5 separate regions of the Homo sapiens genome follow, and all the other regions are linked to region 5. Evidence: fine-mapped expression QTL. A gene starts in region 5. Each other region holds a variant in brackets. All regions are shown on one strand. Distances are from middle to middle.

Evidence for each region. PIP is the estimated chance that this variant, and not a neighbour inherited with it, causes the effect.
Region 1: its variant is fine-mapped to the expression of OSBPL10 in whole blood (TOPMed, PIP above 0.99). The same link has a PIP of 0.9 or more in blood mononuclear cells.
Region 2: its variant is fine-mapped to the expression of OSBPL10 in cerebellum (GTEx, PIP above 0.99).
Region 3: its variant is fine-mapped to the expression of OSBPL10 in unexposed skin (GTEx, PIP 0.96).
Region 4: its variant is fine-mapped to the expression of OSBPL10 in whole blood (TOPMed, PIP above 0.99).

The regions. Positions count from the first base shown.
Region 1 is chr3:31,941,962-31,948,186 of GRCh38, forward strand. All of the region lies in intron 1 of OSBPL10 (oxysterol binding protein like 10), which reads right to left. Among named protein-coding and RNA genes, the nearest start is that of OSBPL10, 36 kb to the right of the region's middle. RefSeq lists enhancers at 4,365-4,967, 4,968-5,569. The variant C/T (reference allele first, on the strand shown) is at 3,732.
Region 2 is chr3:31,957,139-31,962,986 of GRCh38, forward strand. The region is part of intron 1 of OSBPL10 (oxysterol binding protein like 10); the gene reads right to left. Among named protein-coding and RNA genes, the nearest start is that of OSBPL10, 21 kb to the right of the region's middle. The variant C/T (reference allele first, on the strand shown) is at 2,564.
Region 3 is chr3:31,889,230-31,895,454 of GRCh38, forward strand. All of the region lies in intron 1 of OSBPL10 (oxysterol binding protein like 10), which reads right to left. Among named protein-coding and RNA genes, the nearest start is that of OSBPL10, 89 kb to the right of the region's middle. The variant G/A (reference allele first, on the strand shown) is at 3,142.
Region 4 is chr3:31,949,001-31,955,225 of GRCh38, forward strand. The region is part of intron 1 of OSBPL10 (oxysterol binding protein like 10); the gene reads right to left. Among named protein-coding and RNA genes, the nearest start is that of OSBPL10, 29 kb to the right of the region's middle. RefSeq lists an enhancer at 3,510-3,559. The variant C/G (reference allele first, on the strand shown) is at 3,436.
Region 5 is chr3:31,978,020-31,984,244 of GRCh38, forward strand. It overlaps OSBPL10 (oxysterol binding protein like 10), which reads right to left and starts at 3,243. Exons shown (of 12, transcript NM_017784.5): 1 at 2,880-3,243. The coding sequence starts at 3,160. ZNF860 (zinc finger protein 860) reads left to right here and starts at 3,731. Exons shown (of 2, transcript NM_001137674.3): 1 at 3,731-3,883. RefSeq lists an enhancer at 1,329-1,378 and a silencer at 2,933-3,002.

The DNA.
Region 1 (6,225 bases), 36 kb before region 5:
CCTTCTTCTCCCAGTCGAGAATGCAATGTATGGCAGGGCACGGTGGCTCACGCCTGTAATCCCAGCACTTTGGGAAGCCGAGGCGGGTGGATCACGAGGTCAGGAGATTGAGACCATCCTGGCTAACACGGTGAAACCCCGTCTCTACTAAAAATACAAAAAAATTAGCTGGGCGTGACGGCAGGCACCTGTAGTCCCAACTACTCGGGAGGCTGAGGTAGAACAATGGCGTGAACCTGGGAGGCGGAGCTTGCAGTGAGCCGAGATGGCGCCACAAGAATGCAATGTATGGCTCAATATAAAAAGCGGGCTGAGCGCAGTGGCTCACGTCTGTAATCCCGGCACTTTGGGAGGCCAAGGCGGGCGGATCAGGAGTTTGAGACCAGCCTGGTCAACATGGTGAAACCCTGTCTCTACTAAAAATACAAAAATTAGCTGGGTGGCGGGCACCTGTAATCCCAGCTACAAGAGGCTGAGAGAGGAGAATCCTTTGAACCCAGGAGTTGGAAGTTGCAGTGAGCCAAGATCGCATCATTGCACTCCAGCCTGGGCGACAGGGTGAGACTCCATCTCAAAAAAAAAAAAAAAAAAAAAGTGACACATTTCCTCTTATACATTTTTTTTAAATCCTCCCAGATGCCTCATTACCTGCCTGGCTCCATTGTCAGCATCTGAGCCTGGCATCTGAAACCTTCAAAACAACAAACCCATTTAAAGCACAGGCATGTCTGTAGGGGTAAAAGTGAAAAGCAAAAATTGAGATAAATGAACCAAAAAGTGATAGCCACTGTCATTGAAAGTAAACACCATATGTAAAATAGCAAACACACAATTAGCTAACACAGTTTTGACAAAAAAAATTATGTCAAATTTTTTAAATCATAACATACACATAACAAAATTTGCCATTTAGTCATGTTTAGGTGTACAATTCAGTGACATTAGTTGTATTCACAATTGTTATGCAACCATCACTACTATCTATTTCCAAACCTTTTTCATCACCCCAGAGAGAAATTCTGTAACTATCAATCAATAACTCCCCATTCCAATCTTTCCTCAGCCCTTGGTATCTTCTAGTCTACTTTCTTCCTCTATGAATCTGGCTAGTATTGATATTTCATACAATGGGAAGCATACAATATTTGTCCTTTTGTAACTGGCTTATTTGACTTCTTAGCATAATGTTTTCAAGGTTCCTCCATGTTGCCACATGTATCAGAGCTACATTCCTTTTCATGACTAAATAATATTCCATTGTGCATATAAACCACATTTTGTTTGTCCATTCATCTACTGATGCACACTTGGGTTGTTTCCATTTTTGAATCTTGTGAATAATGCTACAATGAACCTTGCCATACAAGTATCTATTTGAGTCACTGCTTTCAATTATTTTGGGTATATACCTAGGAGTAGAATTGCTAGGTCATATAATACACAGTATTTTTTTTAATCAAGTACATTCAATAGTTTTAAAAAAAACTTGGACTTTTTTCCTGATTAAAAAGCAACACATGTTCATTGTAGGAAATCTGGAAAATAATTACACCACCCAGAGAAAGTCGCTGTTAATATTTCAGAATATTCCCTTAAAATCTTACTGTCTAGTTATACACATACACAGAGACAGACATACATGGATATTTTAACTAAAACTGGGTTATTTCCACTTATCATTGTATCAAGAGCATTAACTCCACTGTCATTAAATGTTCTTCAGAGGCCGGGCACAGTGGCTCATGCCTGTAATCCCAGCACTTTGGGAGGCCAAGACAGGTGGATCACGAGGTCAGGAGTTCGAGACCAGCCTGGCCAATAGGGTGAAACCCCGTCTCTACTAAAAATACAAAAAAACTAGCCAGGCATGGTGGCACGCACCTGTAGTCCCAGCTACTCAGGAGGCTGAAGCAGCAGAATCACTTGAACCCAGGAAGCGGAGGTTCGAGTGAGCTGAGACTGCACCACAGCACTCCATCCTGGGCAACAGAGGAAGACTCCGTCTCAAAAAAAAAAAAAAAAAAAAAAAAAAAAGTTCTTTAGAAACAACACTTAATATATGAATAATATTTCATCAGATAGATAAAGCATAACTTTATTAACTATTCCCCAATTTAGGCTGTTGCATATTTTCTGTGGTCATAAATAACACAGCAATGAACATTTTCATGAATTATTTCTTCTGCACTTCTTTGATTACTATTTTAGCATATCTTACAACAAGTAGAATCACTGCATCAAACAATATAACCATTGCTAAGGCTGTTGATAAAGATTACCTATTTGTCTTCCATAAAAGTCATACCAATCTATATTTCTACCAGCAAAAATAAGCAGCTTTTTTAAATGTAAAAATAAATTAATTATATAATCATAAAATATAAAAGAACAGCTTCCAAACTGGTAAACCATGTGTTAGCAATTATCTTTTCTATTAAATGATGTGGCCAGGCTAGATGAACTAAGGTTCAAGACATCTAGGAAAATGTCAAGTTTTCAAATGGCAATCCATATTTTAAACTAACAGGCCTGCTAAAGCATGGATATATTTACATATGGACATGTGGAGAGAAAGATTTATGTAAAACCACCACCTTCCTGATAGCTGTCCCCATCCCTAAATTTTCCCTTTGTCCTTTTTATACAAGCCTGAATAGACTAAGGACAACTCTAATGCCTATAATACATAATGCCTATAATACAGTGCTGTGGCACTGACTCATCTCCTTGGAGACACCTTCTTCCCAGCACATCCATCAGCCAATCTGGTTGCTTCACATGAAAAGAGTGGGTACAGGAGTTAAGGTTGCAGTGAGCTATGATTGCACCACTACATTCCAAACTGGGCAACAGAGCAAGACCCCCTCTCTTTAAAAAAAAAAAAAAAAAAAAAAAAAAAAAAAAAAAAAGGCCAGGCACAGTGGCTTATGCCTGTAATCCCAACATTTTGGGAGGCTGAGGCGGGCAGATCCTGAGGTCAAGAGATTGAGACCATCCTGGCCAACATAGTGAAACCCCGTCTCTACTAAAAATACAAAAATTAGCTGGGCGTGGTGGCACACATGTGTAGTCCCAGCTACTCGGGAGGCCACGGCAGGAGAATCACTTGAACCTGGGAGGCAGAGGTTGCAGTGAACCAAGATTGCACCACTACACTCGAGCCTGGCGACAGAGCAAGACTCCGTCTCAAAAAAAAAAAAAAAAAAAAACAGGAAGGAACAAGCCATGCTAACAAAAGGGGTGCCAGGGTCATTTTGGGAGGAGAAAATTACCTAAAATTCCCTCCCTCATCAGCAAACAAGGCGTCAAATTCCTGCCACTAGGACTCTGGTCCAAAGTTACAGTCCCCAAAGTCAACACCAGTGACATGGGGCTCCCAAAGTCACCACAAATATGCTCTAGGGACACTATCTGGACCGGAAGCCTCAAAACAAAAGTCAGTCAGTGACATACGATCCAGCCCTCAAGCCCACTTGCTTTGACCAGAATCAGGCTTTGGTTTGTTCATTGTTTTTATTTTTGGCTTTAAAAATTGTTTTGAATCAGTTGACAATCTTTAAAAATTAAGACAGCTTCTCACACAAATCTACATCTCTAGTTTCTCTTGCAATATCCAAGGATCTCAACATGGGGTCCATTCACTACACGGCAACCATAGGCCATAGCTGAGAAGCAGCTGCCCTGTCAGATGTGATGCACTCTCAGGTCTCCATGCTCCCACCTTCTCCAGA[C/T]GCTCAGGATGCCAAAGCAGAGGTCAGCAGCCCTTGACCAGAGGGGTTTATACTGCTTTTCTGACACCCTTGTTTCTGTGACACAGCCTGAGACCTGGAGAATATTTGAGCCTGTGACCCCTGGTCTGGTACGAATAACGTATCATGCATACAAATAGGGTTACTGGCCAAACATCTGCAGATCCTATTATGACTAAAAAAATCCAAACTACTTAAGGCATTACTCAATTCAGAGAACCTCTTGCCATTAGGGATTGCCTGAATCAACAGACACTACTAAGTTTTGGTTTATGCTTTTTTTTTTCTGAGATGGGTTTCACTCTTGTTGCCCAGGCTGGAGTGCAATGGCATGATCTCGGCTTACTGCAACCTCCGCCTCCCAGGTTCAAGTGATTCTCCTGCCTCAGCCTCCTGAGTAGCTGGGATTACAGGCACGTGCCACCATGCCCGGCTAATTTTTGTATTTTTAGTAGAGACAGGGTTTCACCACGTTGGCCAGCTGGTCTCGAACCCCTGATCTCAGGTGATCCACCCCCCTCAGCCTCCCCAAGTGCTAAAATTATAGGCGTGAGCCACTGCACCCAGCCACTACTAAGTTTTTTAATGAAAAGGGGGAACTCAAGTTTTTTACTTTTTCAATAATAACAAAAAAATTAGAAATCAATTAAGAATTTAAGAAAAATTAAGAATTTTATTAAGTTGTTTTTTATCAAAAAAAAAAAAAACCCTTGTATTAAGAAAAATTAAGAATTTTTTAAGTCGTTTCCTTCCTGACTACTATGTACAAAATATTAGGCTTCTATTGAAGCAATGACATAATGATGAGTAAGACCCTGCCTGGGCCCTTGCAGGCAGATGGCGGACAGCGTGTGAACAGAGCAATTGCGGGAGGCACAGCGGTAAAGGTAATGGCATCCACCTGCGAAAAGCACAAGAGCCCTCAGGAGGTGACAGGAAGCCTTTATCAAAGGACAAGGCATCTGCCCGGCTAAGGAGAGGGAACAAGAAGCAAGGCTATGACACAAGTTCAAGGTGGAGCTGGGCTTTGGTCCCATTCTAGCAGAGCTGAGACTTCCTTTGGAGGTCACAGGAAGTCACCCAAGAGTTTTTAGTGTTGCATGCTTTAGAAAAGTTACCATGGAGATGGTGTTGAGGTGCCTAGAAGAAGAGGAGCTTGGGCTCAGGGAGGCCTTAAGAAGATGATCGTGGGAGTCCAGACCAGATGCAAGGAGCATCGAAACAAAGACAAGGGCAGGAGGAGCAGACCAGAGAGGCAGCTACGGCTCAGTGGCTGTTAGATACTGACAAATGAGACGAGCAGTTATCAGAAGAGACAAAGGCAGGAGGGAGCAGACCAGAAAGGCAGCTATGCCTCAGTGGCTGGTTAGATACTAGAGAACGAGACACAGCAGTAATCAGAATGATTCACTAAATTTCAGGCTCTGACAACTCAGTGGACATCAGAAACACTGGGCCAACACAAAAAATAAAGGATGGGGAGCAGTTACTGGAAGGTAAGGGTGAGTAGGGGAGACATAGAGACCAGGATCCCATCTGCAGAAGTGTAGCAGCTCTGGATCTAGGCACGAACAAGGTCAACCCTCGGCCCAGGCTGTCCCTAAGCACACAGCACATCACCAAAGCTGGAGGTGCCAATTCCTCCACCCAACTCAGCTGAACAGCAGTTCCCACAGCATCACTAAGGCTGAAAAATTGGAATGCTATCCTCCTCACAAAGGCGGAAGCATGCTTTGTCCTCTGCCTGCCTATAGCGAGTGTCCAAATTACCAATGGCAGATCTTACACCAACATCAGAAGTCCCCTACCAGCTCCTCTTGGCCTCTGCATATGCCACCTTCCCCTACTCCACAATTCCTGCGACAGCACTGAGAAGGTACTCAGGCAGGGCATGGGGTTGGGAGGTTTGGTGGAAGTCTAAAGATGACCAACACATGAAACAAGCCCTCAAAAGAACCTAACAGATCACGGAAGACTCCTGTGGAAACACTCCACACGCTGAGCACAGTATGACAGGCTGGAGGAGAAAAATAGATAAAGAATCTGTGTTAGGTCATATTCCCTGGAGGCAGAGCCTGATGTGGCGACTCCTATGCAAATGAGTGCTTGAGGAAGTGCTCTCAGGATCCGGAGAAACTGGAAGAAGGTGAGGGAAACTGCATAGGAGTTGAGATAAGCCCAGCCTCCGTCTGATCCCACAAAAAGCTCTGAAGTAAACTGTACAAAGTTTGTGCTGCCAGGAAGCAGGGGATTGGGTTTGATACTCCCAATCGTTGACTTCACTAAGTGATGTCAGTCACTGGGTACAAGGTCACACCAGAGTGGAGGATGCAGGTTACCTCCCAGTCACCTCCAGGCTAGAGGGTTCCTCCCCTGCAGGGCAGAATCTTCCAGTGAAAGGTACAGGCATGAAGTATTAGCAGCTAACTCCCTCAATTAGTCAAGGGCTGGGTGCCCTGACCCAGTAAAGGGGATC
Region 2 (5,848 bases), 21 kb before region 5:
AATAAAAAATAAATAAAAATAAATAAAATCATGTTGGCATGGTGATCCAGGGATGTACAAAGGCAGAACTTTTTGTTTTTTTAACTATCACAACTGACACATAAATATTTTTGTTCTTTCCAAAGAAATAACCACAGAGACTCCTGACTTATTGTCATTACCCACAACCTTTGACTCAGTTACGATAAATCCATCTCCCCTGAGCACAGTTATGAGATCTGGAAACAGCTGAAAGCAACCCAGAGCCACAGTGGCAGCTGAGGCAAGGGAACTGCACTGGCGAACACCATTTTTAGTCAAAAATGAGAAAAGACTATGAAGCAGGCAGACCTCTACTCTACTGTGGCTTATAACTTATTCTGAAGGCAATTCCAGAAAAGGAGCCTTGAAATATTTTGAGCAATGGCAGCACTGTTGTGAAAAAGAACCTTGCCATTCGTGGAGATATGTACTTGGAGATTCCTGGGGTTTTTTGTTGTTATTGGTTTGTTTTTGTTTGTTTGTTTTGGTTTGTTTGTTTTTTGAGGAGTCTTGCTCTGTCGCCCTGGCTGGAGTGCAGTGGTGCAATCTCGGCTCACTGCAACCTCCGTCTCCGGGGTTCAAGCAATTCTCCTGCCTCAGCCTCCTAAATAGCTGGGATTACAGGCACATGCCACCACGCCTGACTAATTTTTGTATTTTTAGTAGAGGGGGGGTTTCACCATGTTGGCCAGGCTGATCTTAAACCCCTGACCTCGTGATCTGCCCACCTCAGCCTCCCAAAGTGCTAGGATTACAGGCGTGAGCCACCGCACCCGGCCAGATTCCTGTTTTTAAAAATGCATCTTTAAAGTCACATTGTATAGAGTGACACTGAAGTATGGTCATTTGTTTCTTGGTTTATTGTGTGTGCACCAGCTAAGAAGGAAGAAAAAAATTAAACGTGTGCTATGTCTTAGCCTTTGTAGCCATTTGCAAGGAGGGGTGCAGTAACTCTCGGGCCACCAGAATACCCTTGTGACCACAATGTTAACTTAGAGCTAAAGCGTGACTTTGCCACTAAACATCTTTCAGCCCCTGAATAGCCAATTACCTGATTTACTTTAGCTCTGGCCTGATTTCTACTAATATTTAGGGCTGAAGTAAATAATGAGTGAAGTATTACTCTTGCAATTGAAAAAAGTTAAAAATGCACAAAATGACAGTACACCTCACAAATTAGTCCTTAAAAATATCTTCTCTGACAAATCTAGTTTGTATGTTTTAGGCCTCACTAGATCCAATGTAGTAACAACTGTCAGATATATGGTGTGTTATGCTTTTTAATAATATCAACTGGTATTGCGCACATCAGGACTTCACAGAGGTACATATGCAGGAGGACAAGACTCAAAAGAAATGCACAAAAATCAGTAACAGTTGTATTAGGATGGGAGGACAAGGGCCCATTTTTTTCCCAAAAAAAGTCTTTATATTTGTTATGTCAACTTTTCAATAACACAAAGCATCTTTCTCACCATGGATGCTACATTTCAACTGAGATGTTTATGTTCTGAATACTGGATTCTTCTCTCTCTCACACAAGAGCCAAGGGTGTTTCGGCTTTGTGTTCCAAAAGCCTCTAAACTAGAGAACAGGCCTTTGAGCCAAATCCAGCCCACCACTTATTTTAGCAAATAAGGTTTTATTGGAACAGAGCCATGTCTATTTGTTTACATATTGCCTAGGGCTGCTTTTATGCTGCCATGGCAGAGTTGAATTATTTACTATCTGACTCTTTACAAAAAAACCTTTCTAACCCCTGTACTAAACCAAAGAGTAAGCACTCCAGCACATGGGAAACTCATTAATGCACCATGGAAGAGACTCCCAAAGGTCAAATGTCATCTCTAAAGGGTCAGGGCCCTAGAAGACACTTCCAGTAATTGTGATCCAAAGTAGCAGTTCAAGAGTGGAGACGCACGCAATGGAATCACACATGCTGCATTTGCCAACAAGCCAAGGTCCAGGCAAGAACAACTCTCAATTAAAGAGTGCTCTGTCCTAAAGAAATGCTACGAGATATCGGCTCACAGAGAAAAGTCTCAAATTTTTAATGCAGTCTAATCAAATTTAGCCAGGTCCCTTCCTGAATTTACAAGTCCACCTTCTCTTTTTGCAGCACTATAAACAGTGTACTATCTACTGATAGATCAGAAGCAGTCCTAAAGGCCAGTTCTGTATTCATAACCTGGAAAATAAAATAAAAGCAACTTTGTCTACTGAAAACTACTGTTAAACCCAGTCTTTTTGCTATATATCAGAGGAAATTAGCATGAGACTCAGAGATAAGATATCCCAAACACAATCTGTTAATACCCCAGGATCACTGGGTTCAAGGAAGAGCTCTCTGCACATTTTGAAGTTTTCGCCATCACTCAAAGCAGCTAATACATAAGCCAGAACATCAGATGAGTCTCAGGGCATCAGCTAGATAATGAGAAGCCAGCGGGTATTCTTTGCTATATAACAAAACACAAGGCAAAAAGACCATTTTTAGCATCACCTTTCTGGAGTTTTTCCAAAACTGACTGAGAAGCATATT[C/T]TGTTTCTTGTTCTAACTCAGCGACAAACTCCGTGTGTAACTTTGAATTAAATGTCATCTATTTGAGGCAGTTTCCTCACCTGTAAAACAGAACTTGGGCAAGTTCACCTGAGCACCTTCAAGCCTCAGAATAATGCTCCATGAAAGAAAATGTTAGCCTCCCTCTCCCCTTGACTAGGTTATTTTGGTTTATTGTGAAAAACACTTGCAGAAAAAGGATACAGGAAAAATGCCAAAATTATTCCTGGATTGTGACGTGGCCACTGTGCTACTTAAAATCAGGTTCTCTCAAATGCAGAAAATGAAAGTTGCCTATCAGTGAAGAAAAACAAAACTCTCCCTCTTAGGTCTGATGTACTCCATGGAAAAATGTCCTTCCAAACTCCCTGAGGCAGGGAAGACTATCTTAGCACTTTGCTGAGTGCTTAAGAAATTACGTACCGAAAAACTTCCCTGATCTTGAAGCAGCTCACAGTCTGGGAATCTGGCAGATAGGGAGTCTCAGAGATCGCTTCTGAACTTTTACCAGCCTCCCAAAACAGCACCTCATCCCTGGGCCCCTGGGTGCCAAAGGAATCCTTCAAAATAAGGCTGGATCCAGCCACACTCCGCTTGTCACTCAGACCCTCAGCTTCCCTCACCACGTTCAGTAATACAATGTGAAATGAAACAAACCAGAACCCTGCATTCAGGGTATTCACATTCACAATAACAAGGGCATTTGCATCAATTAGGATTATAAACAGACTGTGGAAATGAGATGCAATAGGGGAACCAGTTTAAATATTTTGTTGTCTGGCCAAATTCCTTATTCAGATCCAATTGACCTAAATGAGAAAGCAAGGCTAAAATGGACACCAGAAGGTTGCAAGCTAGTTTACATAACACAGGCCCTCCCCAGCTTAAACTATCCATTTCCAAGTAAAAATGGAAGTTAACCCTTTCTCCTCTACGTCTCTCTCTTCACAAGCTCAGAAACCAGAAGAGCATCTCTGAACCTTCCCCACTCTGGAAACTGTTGCAAGAGACTGTGCAACCCACTTCTCCCTCAAGGCCATCAGCCATGTGCCATCTGTGCCCCTACCCCACCCTACAAATGCTCACCACCAGGAGAGAATTACCAGCACTCTCTCTTACAGAAAAACCATCCTCTTTATCCTCTTTAATCCTTATTCCTCCTTTAAAAGGGAAAATAGATTACAAGGTCTAAAAACCTGACCTACAAAGGGTTAAAACCAAACTGCTTGAACCTCAAAGCTGCCCAAAAAATGGTGTAAACCACCTAGCAGCTCACAAATTCCCCAAGGGACCTCCTTCTGTCAATGTTTAACCAAGAAGCTACAGCCTTTTTTTTTTTTTTTTTTTTTTTAACTTGCCAGAGCCATTCTACATCAAATATTCTTCATGTGCAACCCACTCCATAAAGAATGAAGCTATTCTATAACAAATCAAGTTCTGAAGCTCTCCAAACCCACTCTTTGGCTCAACAATCAAATATGGAGCACCACCTAAGCAAACACGAGCCCTGTACTGTCCTTGTGGGTGAGGCTAGATCACGAGTCACCAAACAAGAATGTGGTGGTAGAACCTAAATTTGAGGGATCTGCAGTGCCCAGGAAGCCAGGGAAGGCTTCAGGAGAAAAGTGAGCTCCCAGGGCTCGGAAAGCTAGCGTCTCTGATTTTATTTTAGTAGACAGATACTATTTTTAAAATGTAAAGTATCATTAAAAAGGCTGTGCATGTGTTGGAGTAGGGGAGACATGGGAACTCTATATTTCCAATTTTGCTGGGAGCCTAAAACTGCTCTATTTAGAGAGTGTGTGTGTTAATAATGTTAATAATGCTAATAATGCTGGGAGGGGGCTGGGCTAATTATTGGTGTCTTTTGACATTTGTATTTTATTTATTTATTTTTTAGAGACAGGGTCTCACTCTATTTCCTAGGCTGGAGTGCAGTGGTGCAATCATAGCTCACTGCAGCCTTGAACTCCTGGGCTCAAGCCATCCTCCCATCTCAGCCTCCTGAGTATTAAATTTCATTTTAAATGGCATATATTCTAGTGTATAATTATAATCTTTACAGAAATTAATTAATGTACACCAGCAGATGTTCCTGTTATATTTCTAAAGGTTCCCTTTCAAGATAATTGCTATTAATTACATTTAAATAAGTTCTCTAATTTTGGCATCACCAGTTTTGTTTTGGTTTTTTTTTTTTTAAGAGTTTTTTTTGGCAGAGGGGAGGGTTGCTTTTTTTTATTTTTATTTTTTGAGACGGAGTCTCGCTCTGTCGCCCAGGCTGGAGTGCAGTGGTGTGATCTCAGCTCACTGCAACCTCTGCCTCCTAGGCTCAAGCAATTCACCTGCCTCAGCCTCCTGGGTAGCTGGGATTACAGATGCCCACCACCACGCCCAGCTAATTTTTTTGTATTTTTAGTAGAGATGGGGTTTCATCACGTTGGCCAGGCTGGTCTTGAACTCCTGACCTCAGGTGATCTGCCCACCTTGGCCTCCCAAAATGCTGGGATTACAGGTGGGAGCCACCGCGCCTGGCCGGCATCACCAATTTTGGATTCGAGGTCCTGTAGCCTACTATTAACACAGATAACAACTATAATTCTGTTGAATAAATGATTTTCTAAGCAAATAACAACAATAAAGTTATTTCATGGGTATAGTTTCAATTTGGGATGATAAAAAAGTACCGGACATGAAAAGTGGTATTGGTTTCACAACAGTATGAATATACTTATGCCACCAAACTGTACACTTACAAATGGTTAAAATGGTAAACTATATGTTCTACATATTATAAAAGTAATGAAACACTATTTTTTTTTTTGAGATTTCACCATCTTTAAATGGGAACCAGCACAGGAGAAGTGCCATAAATACTCTGCCTGATTCCAGGGGGCTTTTACCCGCAAGAAATGTACAGTTAGGGTTTCAATCGCTCCCATTACACTAAGTTGTAACGCAAGCTCCCTGAGACAAAACTTTTCCATTTGGCTGTTTTCACAAAGACCACAGGAGCACATAAAGTCTTGTCTAGGGGAGCAAATCCAAATCACTTGGGTGCAAGGTAAATGCACAAATGGGAAAAGCCAATGCCAAAATCACTGCTGCTTTGATAGCATTCACTAAACAAATATTGAGTACCTACTATGCGCCAGGCACTGTGCCAGAACTTAGGTCTAATGCCTGATCTCCTGGATCTTGCAATACAATGACTTGCTTTCAATCAAAAGACTTCACTTTTGTGGCAATTTCAAATAATATTACAGG
Region 3 (6,225 bases), 89 kb before region 5:
AAAACAGTATGAATACTCTTCAAAGAACTACAGGTACAGCTACCATATGATCCAGCAATCCACTACTGGGATTTATGCAAAGGAAAGGAAATCAGTGTATTGAAGAGACATCTGCACCCCCACGTTTAGTGCAGCACTATTCACAATAGCCAAGATGTGGAATCAAGCTGGGTGTCCAACAACAGATGAACGGATAAAGAAAATGTGGTCTATATACACAATGAAACATTATTCAGCCTTAAAAAAGAATGAAACCCTGTCATTCTCAGCAACACAGATGGAACTGAAGGACACTATGTTAAGTGAAATAAGCAAGGAACAGAAATTTAACCACCACATATTCTCTCACTCATGTATGGAAACTTAAAAAAAAAAAATTGACCTCCTAGAAATAAAAAGTAGAATAGAGGATACTAGGGGCTGGGAAGGGTTGGGGGAAGGGAGGGATAGAAGGAGATTTGTTAAAGGATACAAACTTATAGCTAGACGGGAGGATTTCTAGCATTCTATAGCACAATACAATGATGCTAATGAATAATATATAGCTTCAAATAGCTCGGAGGAGGATATTGCATGTTCCCAGCACAAAGAAATGATAAATGTTTGAGATGATGGATATGCTAATTACCCTGATATGATCATGGTATGTTGTATGTCTCAAAACATCACTATGTAGCCCATAAATATGTACAATTATGTGTCAATTTAAAACTTAATAAAAATAATGTTTCTTAAAGTTTGGTCCAGTTGCTCTCTGCTTCTCAATCAGTTGAAAAGCTTGTTGAAAATGTGGATTCTGACTCTCAACCTACACCTAGAGGATCTTTGTGAAGGTCAGGAAGTCGGAAATGTGAATTTCAAGAAGTTTTCCAAGTGATTCAGAAGCACCCTCAAGTACAAAAAACAGTGCAAAATCAGAGTCAAAATAAAACCTTCCGTTATTCATCACCCTGTTTTCCATCTGGTATGCCAAGCATTTCTCTCAATCATTCATTCAAACACCTGAGCACCCACACACCCATATAACCAAGATGAATGTTATTTAAGCATTAGCCAACCTCATTTTGTCTTAGTCAAAAACAGCCAAACCCCAGCTTTCCTAAATCACAGCAGCCCAGACAGTGGATTTCTTGGTTTTGTCACTCTGGAAGTGTTTTTGAGAAAGGTTTAAAGACATTGTTTGAAATCACCTGGCATCGAGTTCCTGCATAATGGGATCATCACCTGGCATTATGAAGGTGCTCACTTGAGCAGAGGGGCTCCAGGGGCCAGGCTGAGTGAAGCACCTCAAGATTAAGAGCCACCAGCCTGAGAGGCTGCTGCTTTGGAGACCTCATAAAGCACCAGAATAAGTCAAAGTGAACTTTTAACTCAAGATTTGATGCACTGAGCTTGGATTTGATCTATGATGAGACTCGATCTGCTTTTAAAGACTAGTTGATTTAAGCCCGAAAGAACTGAGACCTGTCTTATGAGAATTAATATAGGCTTTCACAATATTGCCTCATTTCCCTCTGAACTATTAACTCTTGAGTTTCTGGTGTCTTTAGGTGAAAATTTCGATACCAATCTGCGTCTTAATGCTCACAAATTATATCTTATTCTTGATACTGACGATGTTGGAACTTACCTGGAAATGAGCTAAGTCCTGATTCACGTCTCTGCTTTGTACTATAACACACCCATCCTGAAAGTCACGCTGAAAAAATTCTGATACTAGCTAAAGCCCTGGGGTAAAAGTGGGTGAGCAACCCCAGTTTAGTACCCACCAAGAGCAAGAGAGATGGGAGCTGTCCTGTGGAGGCCAGGAGAAGCAAACCCAATCATCAACAAGCCCCATGGCTCAGCTTTTTCCCTAAACATCAACTAAGTCTCTAAATTCCACCGTCCCTGAATTCAAAGTGTCCTTTACTTTTTCTCTAGGGGCAACAAAGCATAGAGGAAGGTAGTGTGATTCGGCAGTCAGAGACCTAATTATGCCCTAGGCCAGGGGTTTTCAGACTTTGCCCACATCAGAATCACCTGGAAGTTGGTTAAAACACAGCTTCCTGGGCCCCTCCCCCAGAGCTTATGATTCAGGAGGTCTGGGTGGAGCAGGAGAATTTGATTTCTAACAAGTTCCCAGGTGATGCTGATGCTGCTGGTAGGACCACACTTTGGGAACCACTTGTTTTCATTTTTGTGACCTCGGGCAAGTTCTTTATCCACTCTAAGACTTGATTTCCACATTTGCAAAAACAAAAAGCTGGCTAATTCGCTCTTGCAGTCCATCCCACCGTCTCTGTGCCCAAAGGTCTGCCTGCTTATAAAACAAGAATTTCCAAATGTTCATATCACATTCCTAAATGCAGACAGTAAATCAGATCTGATGCTGATGCTCATATTGCATTGTATCAGCAGTTTACTACAATGCCAACAAGACAGAACTTGAGAGCTTGTGTTTGCCATTTTTGGGGGGTGCCAGTGCCACGGAAATATTATTTGGCAGGGGCTCACACTCAGCTGTCAGTGTGGTCAACTGTACATAGGTTCTGTGATATGAATAAAGCACTCTGGATAAGTTTATTCAGGTAATGGTTAAAGAGAAGAGAATCCATATAAAAGCTCAACAATGTTTTGAAGAGGGTAGCTCCAAGTCCCCAAACTAAGTTTTATTTGTAAGAATTCACTCATTTGTTTTCGGAAAAATTTTTACTATCTGCTATGAGCCAGGTATTGTGCTAAGGATACATGTGGTATGGGTGACAAAGCCCCTATTCTAACGGGGGAGGGAAGCAGAGAATAAAATATTCACTAAAATGAGTGCCAAACTCTGGCTGTGATTGTGTGTTGTAATAGAAGTGAGTCAATTAGTAGAATTTGACTTACTAGGGCCTGTCTGGAGACGGAGGAACTGAGATCTGAGGTGTGAAGAAATGGACTCGGGGAAGAGGAGAGGAGAGAGTTCCAAGCAGAGGAAGGAGCACGTGTATGGCCCTGAGGACGGAGTGGGGAGAGGGAATGGAGAAAAACCAGTGTGTTTGGAGCAAAGAGAAGGAAAGAATGTGTGTTATCAGATGGGGCTAAAGACGTAGGCAATGCAAACCATGCTGCGCCTACAAGGCGTGGCGGGACTTTATCCTAACATCAACCAGCGGCAGG[G/A]ACAGAACCAGAACTACTTTGTAGAAAGAGAATTCTAGCTCCAAAGTAGGGAAAGGCCAGGAAAGAAGCCAGGTGGGAGCAGAGGGAGCAGAAAGGCGGCTGCAGAGACTCGCTTTCTCTCAACGTGACGACTGGGGAGACTAACACATTCTCTCCCCAAAAAAGTCAACTATAAAACTGGACAAAACTGTCAAAAGCAACCATTTCAGAACAGTAGAAACTGACCAAACTTTGATAAGAACAAGCAGAGCTTGGGGATCATGCCTGGGCTGTCCCCAGCCTCCTCCTAGCAATGCTGACCGGTAGTTCGACTGGGGCAGCAGGGTTCTGCTGCCTGAGGGAGAGGGAGAGGGCGAGGGTGAGGGCAATTGCTCACATGATTCGGATCATCATCAGGTAAAGTGGCAATTGCAGGCAGATGCAGTGGGAAGACCAGGGGCTCCACTGGCCTGAGGTTGCTGCCCAGTTTGGAGCAAGCCACGGACCAGCAGACTAGCCAGGGATTTAATTGGGAATTTCAGGAGGTGAGAAAACCATGGGGCTAAACTTTTCATGTATCTGTTAACCGGTGGTTGAGCACAACTGCAGCAGAGACCAGAGCAGGCCCACGGCACCCATACATCCTTGGTCAACAGAGCCTATGCTCAGGCACAGGGAAGAGCGATAAAAAGTAAGAGCCAGGAAGGACACGGAAACAGCCTGAAATGTTAATGTGCTCCCTCCTAACAAGCAGATAGAGGGGCAGAGTCAAAGCCTTTCTGGCTAAAGCACAATCTCTGGCCAATCTTTGACTAAATACCAAGTATATACATGCAAAATATACAAAGAACCCTTACACCTCAAAACTAAGAGAAGCAACCCATTCAAGAAATGCAAAATATTTCATTTCACCAAAGAAGACATTTCACCAAAGAAGATACATGAATGGTTAATAAATACATGAAAAGATGCACATGATTAGTCTTTAGAAAAATGCAAATTAAAACCACAATGAGATTCCAGTTCACACCCACTAGAACAGCTATAATTAAAAAGACAATGACAAATGGTAAGGATATGGAGAAACTGGAACCTTTCCACACTCTTGGTAGGAATGTGAAATAGAACATCTGCTTGTGAAAATAAACTTAACCTACAACACATCAGTTTCACTCCTAAGAATCTACTAAACAGAAATTAAAACAAATGTCTACACCAAAGACTTACATGCGAATGTTAAAGCAGTATTATTCATAGTAGCCAGAAACTGGAAATAATTTAAATGTTAACTGGTGAATGGATAAAGAAAATGTGGCATATCCATCCCATGGCATACTATTCAGCAATAAAAGTACAACATGGATGAACCTCAAAAACATTATGCTAAAGGAGCCAGATGAAAAACACTACAAATTGTATCATTCTATTTATATAAAACGTCCAGCAAAGGGAAACAGAGAGACAAAAAGATAAGTGGTTGTCTGGGGCTAAGGGTGGGAGCAGGATTAGCTGCAAACTGCTTACAGGGATTATTTTATTTTTTTAAAAAAATGTTGGTGTTAGAAATATTCTCAAACTGAATTGTGGTGATAGTTACAAAACTATATAAATTTACTAAAAGTAACTCAATTGTATACTTACAATGAGTGAATTTTATAATGTTTAAATTATACCTTAATACAAGTGATATCTACAGTGATCCTGGCAATAGCCTAGACCAAGGTGGTGATGGCAGAGTTTCAGTTGACAAGATTTGATGAGGCAGGAATTCAGTTTTGGGAATGCTGCATTTGAAATACCTTACTCCAAGAAATGTCACTTAGCCGTTGGATGGATGAATCTGGAGCCCAGGAGCGGTCGGAGTTGGAGATGTGAATTTGCAAATCATCTGCAAATAAGTAGAAATTGAGGCCACAGGCATAGATGAGATTGCCCAGAAAGAGGAACAAGGAGGACAAGGGGAGGCAGGAAGGAACGGGCCTGGGACCAAGACTTGAGGAATTCTAACATTAAACAGGGAAAAGAACAGAGAAAACAAGGCAGAGAGGAAAACCAGAAGCACAGAAAGGACAGAGTGACCATGTCAAATGCTGACAAAGTGTCAGTAAGAACTGAAACATCCTATTTGTGACCATACACTCATCTGTTTATTTCTAGATTCATGGATTCCCATGGCCCTAATTTATTGTCAAGCAAATCCGTTTTTGTTTTGTTGTTGTTGATGCAGCAAGCCCAAGAGAAAGGAAAAGAACTTCTCTTCCAAACACGTATTGCCTAAATCCACCAGCTATTTTCCAACATCCTCATTCCATTTTTACTGGGAGGAGTGGAAACATTATTGGGTTGAAGCCAGGATCTGAATTTCAGCTCTGCCACTGATTGATTAGCGGTCTGAAACCAGGTGTGGCAGAGACAGACTACTACCCACTAAATACCTATTTCCCTTCTCTCTCAAGAGAACGCTAGTTTTTAGTCGGACACAACATGCTATGCCGGAATATCTTTCCCAGCCTTCCTTTCACTTAGATGTGATCAATTGACTAAGTTCTAACTAATGAGGAAAAATGCTGTCGTATTACCTTCCCTCCCTCCTCCACTTGCTTTTTAGAAGATGAATGCAATGGCTGAAATTCCATGCCACACTCTAGGGATGGTGAAGCAGAAAGCTGGAAGGAGCATGGGTCTCTGATTTCTGTGGAATCCCCAAACCAACCCGGAAAAGCTACCTCCAAACTGCTTTTATGTGACAGAACATAAATGCTGCATATTAGAATTCTCTGCGGCCTTTTTTTTTTTTTTTTTTAGACGGAGTCTCACTCTGTCGCCCAGGCTGGAGTGCAGTGGTGTGATCTCGGTTCACTGCTAGCTGTCTCCCGGGTTGACGCCATTCTCCTACCTCAGCCTCCCGAGTAGCTGGGATTACAGGCACCCGTCACCACGCCCGGCTAATTTTTTTTTTTGTATTTTTAGTAGAGATGGGGGTTTCACCATGTTAGCCAGGATGGTCTTGATCTCCTGACCTCATGATCTGCCCGCCTCAGCCTCCCAAAGTGCTGGGATTACAGACATGAGCCACCGCACCCAGCCCAGACTTTTTTTAAACAA
Region 4 (6,225 bases), 29 kb before region 5:
ATTCCTTAATTACCAGCCAAGTCCAAAGGAAATAAATGGTCAAATCAATTAACTCATTATTTATTATTTACTCTGTGATTAAACTTACAGATCAAGCTTCTAACAATACTAAGGGGAAGTTGGGGAAAGAGGAGTTTTAGGTTGGTTTCTTAGCCCAATGCAAATCTGCCTCAATTGTCATTCCTAAAACGCACACACATATTATTTCAGGAAGGATTGAACCAATCAACTGAAAAAACAGGAGACAAGTTAAAATAGCAACAGCTAACCTTTTCAGAGTACCTTCCATGTGCCTAAAACTGTGCAAGTAGTTGGATGCATACATCCTTCTCCATTCTCATGGAACAATTGTGCAGTACAAGAAATATAAAAGGATACTGGGTTCCGGCTGGGCACGGTGGCTCACGCCTGTAATCCCAGCACTTTGGGAGGCTGAGGCGGGCAGATCACGAGGTCAGGAGATCAAGACCATCCTGGCTAACACGGTGAAACTCGGTCTCTACTAAAAATACAAAAAATTAGCTGGGCTTGGTGGCAGGCACCTGTAGTCCCAGCTACTTGGGAGGCTGAGGCAGGAGAATCACGTGAACCCGGGAGGTGGAGCTTGCAGTGAGCTGAGATCACCTCACTGCACTCCAGCCTGGGCAACAGAGCAAGACTCTGTCTCAAAAAAAAAAAAAAAAAAAAAAAAAAAAAAAAAGGATACTGGGTTCCTACCTCACAGAACAGACACAAGTCCAGACAGATTAAAGCCTTAATTGAGAGAGGTAACTTCTGAAACTTTCAGCAGAAAATATAAGAGAATATCTCTTTAGTTAACTAGAAAAGAAAATACTCATATTCTACCACATTAAGAACCTCCTGACCTGAGGTCCCACCTATGGACTGACTTGGTTTGGATCAGAGCTAGAAGCTGCTCTCAATGAAAAATTTTAGTTGTCAGTTATGCAGTGGGTTGAAGTAGCAATCTGAGAGTTGGCAAAAATTTTTTAAAGTAGGTCTCGGTGGAAATCCTACTTATGTAGGCTTGTATTAGCTTCCAGGGTATCCGAAAAGGGCCTGTCAGGAGGGATGACTGTTTCTGCCAGTAAACTGAGCAGTGGGCAGCATAATTAAGAGAATATGGAAAAGAAGTAAGAACTTGTTTTTCAAAAGCATCACAAATAAAGTAAAAAGCCAAGCTATGAACTAAAAGGAGATATTTGCAACATAGATCCAACAAAGGATAAGTATGCAGAATATATAAAGCACTCCTACAAACCAATGCAAAAAAGACAACCTAATAAATAACTGAGCAAAAGACCCAAGCTGGAATTTCATAAAAGAGGAAGAAAGAATGACCCTTAAGCACATGAAGAGCTGCTGTCTTTCTGATAATCAGAGATACACAAATTAAGATACCAATGAGATATCATGTATACCTACTGGCTTGGCAAAATTAAGAATTCTTACTATATCAAAAACTAGAAAAGGTGCAGAACAATGCAAATGCTTATACCCTACTGGATGGCATTAAACTGGCACATCCACTTTAGAAAACAACTTAACATCATCTTATAAAATGGAACATCCAAATACCCTGAAGCCCAGTGGATATAGTTTGGATATCTGACCTCTCCAAATCTCAGGCTGAAATGTGATCCCCAATGTTGGAGGTGGAGCCTAAGGGGAGGCACTTGGGTCATGGGGGCAGATCCCTCACAAATGGCTTGGTGCCCTCCCTATGGTAATAAGTGAGTTCTCACTCTGTTAGTTCTGTTAGTTTACCAGTTAGCTCTGTTAGAGCTGGTTGTTTAAAGGAGCCTAGCATCTCCTCCTCTCTCTCTTGCTCCCTCTCGCCATGTGACATGCCTGCTCCCTCCACTTTCCATCTTGAGTAAAAGTTCCCTGAAGCCTCACCAGAAGCCAAGATGCTGGTGCCATGCCTGTACAGTCTTCACAACCATGAGCCAAATAAACCTCTTTTCTTTATAAATTACCCAGTCTCAGATATTCCTTTATAGCAATGCAAAACGGACTAACACACCAACAATTCAACTTCTACATCAACATCACAAGGAAATTCTTGCGTGTGTGTACTGGGAGATACATACTAACTTACACACAGCAGTAACACCGTTCACAGAGGAAGAAATGGTGAACAACCTAAATACCCATCACCAGGATAAAAAATTTGTGACATAGTCACACAAAGAATGTTATACAGCATTGAAAAGAAATGCACTGAAGTTAGACACAATAACGGGAATCAATTTTGGAAACAAAACGGGAAAAAAAAAAGACTTGCAGAAAACTATATACAACATCCTTTTAAAAATATAAAACTGAGAAACAAAACTAAATAATACAGAGAGATAACACACATTATTTTTGTAAAATATCTATTATAAAAATACTTTATATTATACAAAGGTGAAGGAATGATGAACTTGAAACTCAAGAGTTAGTGGTTACCTAAAAGAGGGGAGGAAAGGATTGAGTTGAAGAAGAATACTTGGGCAGATGAGCTACTAGTGGTTATATTATCCTTCCTAGAGTGAATGGTGAGCTCATGCCTGTTCATTTTCTTATGCTCTGTTACATATATGATTGCATATATTCTTTAATATAAATCAATTATATTTTTCAAATATTAGAAAAAAGCTATTTAGATCATTTATTCTATGATTGTATACAATTATAAAAATAGAAACTAATATATAAATGTTAATTTAAACTATATAATTATATATTTAAATTATATGGAGTATTTATTATTATTCCCATTTTACTGATGAAGAAACTGAGAGTTAAAAAGGTAGGATAACTTTACACATCCAGTTAAGTGAAAGTGACAAACTAAGCTTTTCATTAACTTTAAAACCCATGCTTTAACACCGTGCTATACTCTTAAGATTTCCACCAGCGAAGAAAAAAATTAGATATAATTCACAAGATTCAAGAATCCCTGCCTAAAACTCCATTAGTGTGCAACTCTTACAGAACTCCTACTATAATCTGTGCCTTCCATGAGTGGTGGGAAATGAGTATTGTTTATTAGGATTTGTTAGCTCTAAAGACAAACTTATTTACATGTTAACATATAGTCATATTAAACAAAAGACTCTTAAATTCAATGAAATTTGGAATTTATAGAAAACCTACGATAAAGCATTTTGTTTTATTTTGCAAATGCAAATAAAGAATCCTGGTGCAAAGTGGAAAGCCATGCCTTAGTACACATTAGGTGGATTAAGAAATATGTTTTCTTCAGTGAGGCAAAACTATTCAAGTGATAAATTCATCTGTTTGTCCAGGTTCTTTTCTTGTTTTCACCTTCTGAGCTTCTTTCACTTCCCTTCAAGAGTCATGTTTCCTCTCTCACCCTAGATCTTAACCAGGTGGCACTTCCTCCAAAAGAGTTCCCCACCCTACATCCAGGCGTATCCCTCGTCA[C/G]GCTCCGTGAGAGCACTTTGCATGCTGCAGTTCAACCACTGCTGTGCATCTTCTTCCTAGCCCACCAGCAACTTGGGGCAGGAACCCATCTACAATAGTCCCCACTGTACCTTCAGGCACAGCATGGGGAGCAATGAGAAGGAATCAACAACTGAATGAAGGGATGATCATACTACTATGTAAAATCCATTCACACGAAAGGATCAGAGGGAACACAGAATAGTAGGAAGGATGTGGCACTTGGAATCAGACTGACCTGTGTTAGAATGTCCCCCCAACATCAGTTGGCTCTGATATTACTAAATATTAAATATTACTAAAACCTGCCCGCCTTGTGTGGTTATTAGAATTAGTGGTGATAATATGTGTGAAGATGATTCTCTCAGGTACTAATCAGTGACTTTAAACTGTGGCTGTCGGGGAAGGGTCCTATATTCTGGTTCAACTGGTCCAGGATGGGATCTGGTGATGAAATTTTTGTAAAATCTTCCTACTTTTTTTTTTTTTTTTTTTTTGAGACGGAGTCTCATTCTGTAGCCCAGGCTGGAGTGCAATGGTGCAATCTCGGCTCACTGCAACCTCCGCCTCCAGGGTTCAAGCAATGCTCCGCCTCAGCCTCCTGAGTAGCTGGGATTACAGGCGCCCACCACCATGCCTGGCTAATTTTTTTGTATTTTTAGTAGAGACGGGGGTCTCACCATCTTGGCCAGGCTGGTCTTGAACTCCTGACCTCGTGATCCATCCACCTCAACCTCCCAAAGTGCTGAGATTACAGGCGTGAGCCAGCGCGCCCGGTCCTCAGATACTTTTAATATGCAGAAAGGTTTCAGAACCTCTCCACGGGACAGAAGCAAGGCAGGAAATAACATCTGCAGAGCCTTGCTGTGTCCAACACTCAGTTGCCACACATTATATTATTTAATACCCCCACACACACAAAGAGTGGGCACTGCTTCCCCCTTACCAAGCAGAAGTGATTCTGTTGTTGTTGTTGTTGCTGTTGAGGACAGGGTCTAGACTGGAGTGCAGTGGCTTGATCACAGCTCACTGCAGCCTCAGCCTCCTGGGCTCAAGCAATCCTCCCACCTCAGCCTCCTAAGTAACTGGGACTACAGATGCATGCCACCACACCTGGCTAATTTTTGTATTTTTTGTAAAGACGGTTTTACCATGTTTCCCAGGCTGATCTCAAGCTCCTGGGCTCAAGCAATCTGCCAGCCTCAGTCTCCCAAAGTGCTGGAATGACAAGTGTGAGCCACCACACCTGGCCACAATGGCCATTCTTCATTAACCCTTTTCCTTCTCCCTCTCAATCATGTCAATTTTCTTCAAAAAAGAGACAGCTAAACTTTCAGACAAGTCACCATACGTGAAGATGTTCAAAAGCTCTATGTGTATGTGAGGAGTGTGTGTGACAGAGAGACAGAGACAGAGAAATGAAAGAGGAGGAGAGAAGGAACTGGGGCAAGAGGCAACAGAATGACGCCTTTTTCCATCAGAGAGTTCAGCAGCTTCAGTGCTGTGGTTGATTCCTTAACATCAAAGCTAAATAGGAACTTGTTTCCAGCTCCAGTTGTTGCAGCTGACTGGTCCTATAATTTCTAGCATGCACAAAGCATGTCAAAATCCTCAACAACAAAAATCATTAAGAGAAGTCTGGGTTCATCCTTTAACCCTAGAACAATTAAATGTGTGAGGTGCCCGTGCATTGGCCCATTTGCTCCTTCTGCACATGAATTCCCATTAACACCAGTCCCAAGAGGGAAGAAAAAGGGGTCAGAAAGATGGCTGCCTGGCCAAGATGCCACAGGCCTGGAGGAGGTACTGAATTAAATGGCCTCTAAGCCCCTCAACTCTAATCCTCTACAAAGAGCCTTTGTGCATTGCTAACACTAGGCTGGAAAGGAAAAAGAAGCAACAATCCCAAGTTCCATGAGGAGGGCTTCTGGTTCTTTCTACTTGCAGCAATCAGGCATAATTTTAAAGCTAGCCGTCTCAGCAATAAAAAGGAATCCACGACTGATAAGACACAACGACATAAATGAATCCCAAAATGTTATGCTGACTAGAGGAAGCCAGACACAGTAAGTATATATTGTGTGATTCCATTTATATGAAATGCTAGAGTAGGCAAAAACCAATCTATATTGGGGGCAGGGGGAAGGATGGTGGTTGCCTGGAGTGGGGAGGAGCAAGAGACACAACAGAAGCTTCTGGGGAGATGGTAATGTTCTATGCCTTGACAGAGGTTGGGTAAAAATGCATGCAGTTGTCAAAACTTAGCAATGTACACTTAGGATTTGTGCATTTCATTGTGAAATTTTACATCAAGAGAAATAATTGAAAACAAATATTGTTAATGATATGTGTTAATGACATGCATGCTAAAATATTTATGACTATACTAATGTCAGCAGTTTGCTCTGAAATGTATAAAGAAATAAAATGGATCTATGGATGAGACAGATGGACAGACATGTAAAAAACTAGGTATAATAAAATGTCAGTTGTAGAATCCAGGTGGTAGATACTTGTGTGTTTACTGTACAATTCTTTCAACATTTCTGTATATTTGAAATTTTTCATAATAAAATGAGGGAGGGGGCAGTTAGCCACATAGAAGGTAGATGGGTGGATAAGGTAAGCTAATTGCTAAGAAAAAATCATAGAAGCTACTGGCATCCAGGCATCCACTGGGGTTTAATGCAGCGTGAGCTGCTCAGACAAAAGAAAAAAGGAAAGATGACAAAATTGAAGATAACAGTAATACAGTAATAATTTGTTGAACCA
Region 5 (6,225 bases):
GAGGATGAGGCTACAAATAAAGGCAGAATATGATGCCAAGTGTTAAAATATAAGTTTTACAGCAACTTGAGAACATGCAAGAGGACACCAGGGTACAAACTGTTAGTGGGTGATTGGTATTAAGTCCTGGGAGCTGGTGAAGAGCACTACAATTGCACAGCAGCCTGAGAGGATGAACCAAGAACTTGGTTGCTATAGATTTGTCATTAACTGTGGGCACTTTGAAAAGAACTGCCAAAGGAAGATGCTATGAGGCCCAGAAAGAAAGGCAGCAGGAATCAGTTGGCTAACTATTTGTACTAAGGCATTTCCCTGGACCAGGGAAGGGTGGTAGCTCCAGCTCCTAGAACAGTTCCTGCCACATAGTAGGTGCTCAATAAAACAGTCTGTGAATAGATAATTGAACAAATGAATACATTTTCAAAGTTTCTATTTTTATCCTCTTCTCTCTTCCTTTTCACTAATCCATCTGTCCCTTCATAAGACCCCTAGAGAAGGGAGAATTTTGCAAGCACAGAGTCATCGTAATCTTCTCCAAACCACTAATGGACCCTCAGCCATCGTTCAAAGAACAAAATGTGGGAAATAGAAACCCTGACACTGAGATGTTAACAATTACAGACGATGCTTATGGAGTCAGTGGTAGACTTGGAAAACGGTGAGTCTACTGTGGTAAGAACAAACATAGGCAGACAGCTATAAATTGCAGTAAACAAACTCAATAAAGATGAGACATCACTTAAGCATGCTCAGGAGTGTACTTAATACCACATTTCACCTAGGTAGCCTGCTATCACGTAGGTATTATTATTGGCATTAAATGTGCTTCTTCTCAACCTTGCCTCCAATCTAAACACCACAATGGGTTTAAAATAATGCAAAAGAATGTTACTCCAATGCCTCCTAAATCCACTCCAAATAACAAATCCTTTAATACAGACTGCAAGGTAAAATATTGTTCCCCAGCAAGTAAATAATAAAATAACTGTAATCCAGGGTAAAAGCTTTGCTGGCCTCATAATCTACTTGAAGAAAAAGCATTAAGTGATTGCTCAACACACCAACAAAATGCTGTTACTGACAAGGCACCTTGAGTTGCCATTAACGAGACATAATTACCAAGAACTGAAATCAGATTTAGTCATCTCATATCTCCCTCTACCTACGCATTCTACCTATTCTTTTTCAGCTTTCACGAATTGAAAGGGGAAGGGAGAGGCAACAGCAGACACTAGGACTATTTTGAGAAATAAAAGGATTCAAAAGTTAAGTGCAACTTCCACTAACATAGTAACACATCTCCCAGGAAGCCCAGGTGACTCAGAAAGTCCTATATGTAGAATATCAATATAGAAACAACTCAGTTTCCATACTTCAAAAGACCTCTTCCTCCAAGTTGAGTTTCGTGCAGATAACTGGCTGATATGTTTCAGATGGAAGCAAATCTGAACATTTCCAAACAATCTACAGGAAGAGATAACCAAGTAATATAGTCCATGCAGCAGAGATAAGCAACTTTCCAGGGTATAATTCAAATCTCACAAACATCCTTAAGAGCCCCAAGTCTATTAAGATCTGGAGACTGTTAAATAGGCAGGACAAAATATCCCACCAACCACCTCTCCAAAAAGCATTGTTCTCCTCGCACTGACACTTGTATTTCCCTCTGGCTTGTTTTTGGAAAACAAATTGAAAAAAAAAACAAAAACAAAAAGTAAACAGTAGTGCCACATCTGTTCTTGTCTTCCTCACGATGGCAGATCACACACACTACCACCATTCCAAGTGCCTCCTGAGCCCCTTTCCTCGACAGCCCCATCCTTCCACGTGTCCATAACTAGGCTTCTCAACTGCAAGGGGGAAGTGAGCAGGAAACTTCAAATGGGACCTGAAGAGGAAATAATGATAATAATGTAAATTGCTACTAATATTAAAAGGGGGAGGGTATTTTTTCTTTCTTTTTATTATTTTATTTTATTTTATTTTATTTATTTATTTTTTTTGAGTCGGAGTCTCGCACTGTCGCCCCGGCTAGATTGCAATGGCGCGATCTCGGCTCACTGCAACCTCTGCCTCCGGGGTTCAAGCGATTCTCCTGCCTCAGCCTCCGGAGTAGCTGGAATTACAGGCGCGCCGCCACGCCCGGCTAATTTTTTTTGTTTTTAGTAGAGACGGGTTTTCACCATGTTGGCGAGGCTGGTCTCGAACTCCTGACTTCGTGATCTGCCCGCCTCGGCCTCCCAAAGTACTGGGATTACAGAGGTGAGCCACCGCGCCCGGCCTCTTTCTGTTTTTAAACAAAACTTCCATTACAAACATCGGAGGCTGCAAGGCACAAACTGGGGCAGGAGTATGCACAGTCGCCCAGGATGACAAGTGGCAGGTTTTTTGTTGATGGTGGTGGTGTTCTGAAACACCAAACTTTAAAATGAACTGTTACTTAGAGAATTACTGTAATCGGAGCGGACGTGCTAACGCTTTTTCACCCCGGCACAAAGCACGCCCCTTCTGCCTCCCTTTCCCAGTCATTCTTCAGGCGTGCGGGAAACCGCGGACAAGCAGAGCACGGGGACCAGCACGATCCTCCTGCCACCACTCCAGTCTCTGCAGGTGCCAGCATAGAAGAAAACCAGGGCTCTCGCCTCCCTCCCCGCCACTGCGGTGCGGTCCCGGGGTGGAGCCACGGCGCGCCCCATCCTGAGAACCCCACCTGGAGGGGAGCAGGGACGCAGGAAGGGCACCGTTGGGAGGCATCACTGGGTTCGCTGAAGGCACAATCGCGCGCGCACACACATACACAGACACACATACACACACGCACGCACACACACACACACACACACAGCGGCGCGCGGTGGCGCGGGCGGCTGGCGCGTTACCTGTTCTGCCAGCCCTGGAGGAGGTTGGTGTATTTGCTGAGCACGCCCTCGAGCGCCGGCTCCCTCCTGCGGCCGCCTCCCCCGGACGGGCTAGCGGCCACAGAGCCCGGGCTGCTGCGGCTTCCCCCGCCGCCGAGCCCGGCCGCCGCCGACCGGCTGGAGACCCCCCGGCCCGCCAGAGAGCAGGAGGGCGAGGAGCCCGCCGAGGTAGCACGGCTGCTGCTGCGGCTGCTGCTGTTGCTACCCCCGCCGCCGTCTGTGCCCTGGACTGCCCTCTCCATGGTCCGTGGGCGCCCGGGACGCGGGTGCCCGCCGCGGTGGCGGCCCCGGCACGGCGGCTGCTGCTGCTGCTACAGCTCCGGACGCCCGGGCCGCGCGTGCCTGCTCCAAATCCCCGGGAAATGCCTGACTCATACAGGAGGAAGAGGAGGAGGAGGCGAAGGAGAGCTGGGAAGGAAGCCAACGGGGCTGGATGCAGCTGCGGCCGCCCCTCCTCCCGCCGCGGCCAGGGCCCGGCCCCTCCCTCCGCACTAGTTTCCCGGGCAAGTTCGGAGCGGGTGGCCGGCTAGGCGAGCCCTCTTCGGGTTCCTCCTTCTCTTCCTTCGTGTCCCTGCGGCCTCTCAGGCCCTCGGGACACTCTAGGAGGCCGATCTGCAGGGTGGGCACGCCCTAAATCCACGCCAAGTCACCCACGCATTCCTTCTGCCACCCTCTCTTGGATCCGAAGGGGCGAAAGGGAATCTCTGCACGTCACTCCCCACCCCTTATCCACCTCGGGACCTGGAGGGAGGGGCAGCCCCACCCACCCGGTCCACCCGGATATGGACCCGCCCGGCCTGACAGGCTCACACGCACACTCCCTCTCTCGGTCTTCCGCACACGATGCTGCGCCAGACGCTCCTACACAGTAACCTGGAAATTATCACCGGCGGAGCAAAGTCACAGCTCAGGGAGGCCCTCCGCGTTGTCTGGCGGAGGAGGGGAGTGGCAGGTGATCCTCACAGGTAAGCTCGCCGGGCATTTTCATGCAGCAGGATTATGATAAATGCTTAACAGACACACGGCTGGGCTGGGGTGAGGCGCGCGAACTCTCAGGTTTGTGCGAGTGCTTCCTTAAATTGAGTGTCCTAGGTCACTCACTGGCCTAACCCTAATCCCCTGCCCTGAATGGCACGCATAAACCTGGCAAGTCAAAACCTATCCATTGCTACCACACTGCACGTGCACCTAGGAGCAGAGGCTCTGAAACCGGGAAAACTGCTCCAGAGGCAAGGGAAATTAACAGATATTTACAAACATTGAAGGATTCTCTGTGTTGGCTGTAACTTCTGCGCCCCTCTTCCTACCTAAAGATACTCTTTCTATCCCACTAATATTTTTTGTGAATATAGATATCCATTGTAATCTGAAGTATCAAAAATTACCTAGAAAAAAGCTTTGAGGAACTCAGACTCTCTCTCTCACACACACACAGACAAAACAAAAGGTGATAGATGATAGGTGATCTCCGTCCAAAGGATCTACAAACCCATCAAGCAGATAAATACTTCAAGAGTTAAAAAAAATTACTAAATGGAAAAGTCAGCTCTCAAAGGGACAGTTCCCCGAGCCCAACCCCTTTCTAGCTTCACATCCTTCCAGGAAGATTTCATGGGTGGTTTAGCTCTAGAGATGCACGGAGAAGCTTCTGGAGTTGAAGAGAAGTGGTTGTGCCCCTGAGTAAATTACAATTCCAGGTGCCTACATAGTGTTAAAAAAAAAAAAATCTGAAAAGAGCTTGCCTGGACCAAATTTGAAGCCATTCAGAGCTGAATTCTAACCTATGACCTTGATCAAATTACCTCTTTTAGCCTTAGTTTTCTCACTGCAAAATGGGACAAATGATACCGGCTGTAATAAACTATGCAAGAATGTTCATTTGTTCAAAATATTTACTGCCGCTTCCTATGGAAAGAGTATCCTTCCTCCACATGGACCTTAGGCTTGGCCATGGAATTGCTTTGAGCAATGGAATGTGAACAGAAGTAATGAATGCCCCTTCCAAACATAAGCTTTAAGAGCAGTCATATGGTTCCACCATCTTTCTCTTTTCCTTATCCCAGGAGAGCAGCATGTCCCGGATAAGGACTCTCCTTAAGCTTGTGTCCTGGAGTGAGAAGGTGTGGAATACAGCAGATCCTAAGCCAGTTAGTGTTGGCCATGTAACATGCACAAAATGTTTGTTTGAAGCCATTGAGATTTTAGCATTATTTTTTACCACAGCATAGCTTTGCCTAAGCTAACTTACTGATCATATATGAGTGTTCATTGAGTCCTGCATTGACATACAGACTGAAGGTGGGAAGGTAGGTGCATACTGGACTATAAATGTCAGCATTATGTACCAAAACAACATGCCTTTTATTGGAGACTGCCACCTTAAGCTCCTGCTAAAAGAGGAGAAGTGTCATTTTATTTCATATTACCTAACCTATGCCACCATTACTCCACCTTATGCAGCCAACCTAAGACTGAATGAGCTAGCACAACAAATTCTCACCTTGGACTAAAAAATTAGACCCTTGAGATAGACCAGTTCAAGTGGGGAAGGAACTAAGCTAAAAGGAATAGTCAAGGCCAGGATGGGGCAGGAGCAAGCCAGCCGTATGGGATCAAAAATGTCCAAGAGGTGAGTGGAGCAGATGTGCTGAAAGTAGAGGCTATATCATGAAAGAGTGATGAAGCACATGCTGTTCCTCCTGCTGGTGACACTGTTCCCTGCTCTCTTCACCCGGTTTGTGTTTCTCACCCATGGAGTTATGGATTACAAGTCACTTCTTCCAGAAAGCTTTCCTTGACCTACCGTAGTATAGCAAATAGGGAAAAGGTACCTGCAGAATTATGTTTGGAGAGGAAAAAGTCTTTATGTTTGAAAAACAATTTGGAAAATACATAATAAGTTGGCAAAAAGTATTTGAAATACATACTGTAATGCCCAACAGTTTCATCTTGCTTGTTACCCGGAAAAGCCAATGCAGGTTTTTGCAATAGAGGAAGAGTTTAACAATTGTAGGGCCAGCCAAGCTGGAGCACAGGAGTGTATTATTACTCAAATCAATCTCCCTGAAAATTCAGAGCCTAAGGGGTTTTTTTTGTTTTTGTTTTTGTTTTTGTTTTGAGACTGGAGTCTCGCTCTGTCACCCAGGCTGGAGTGTAGTGGCACGACCTCAGCTCACTGCAAGCCCTGCCTCCCGGGTTCACGTCATTCTCCTGCCTCACAGCTTCCCCAGTAGCTGGGACTACAGGCACCTGCCACCATGCCCAGCTAATTTTTTTGTATTTTTAGTAGAGATGGGATTTCACTGTG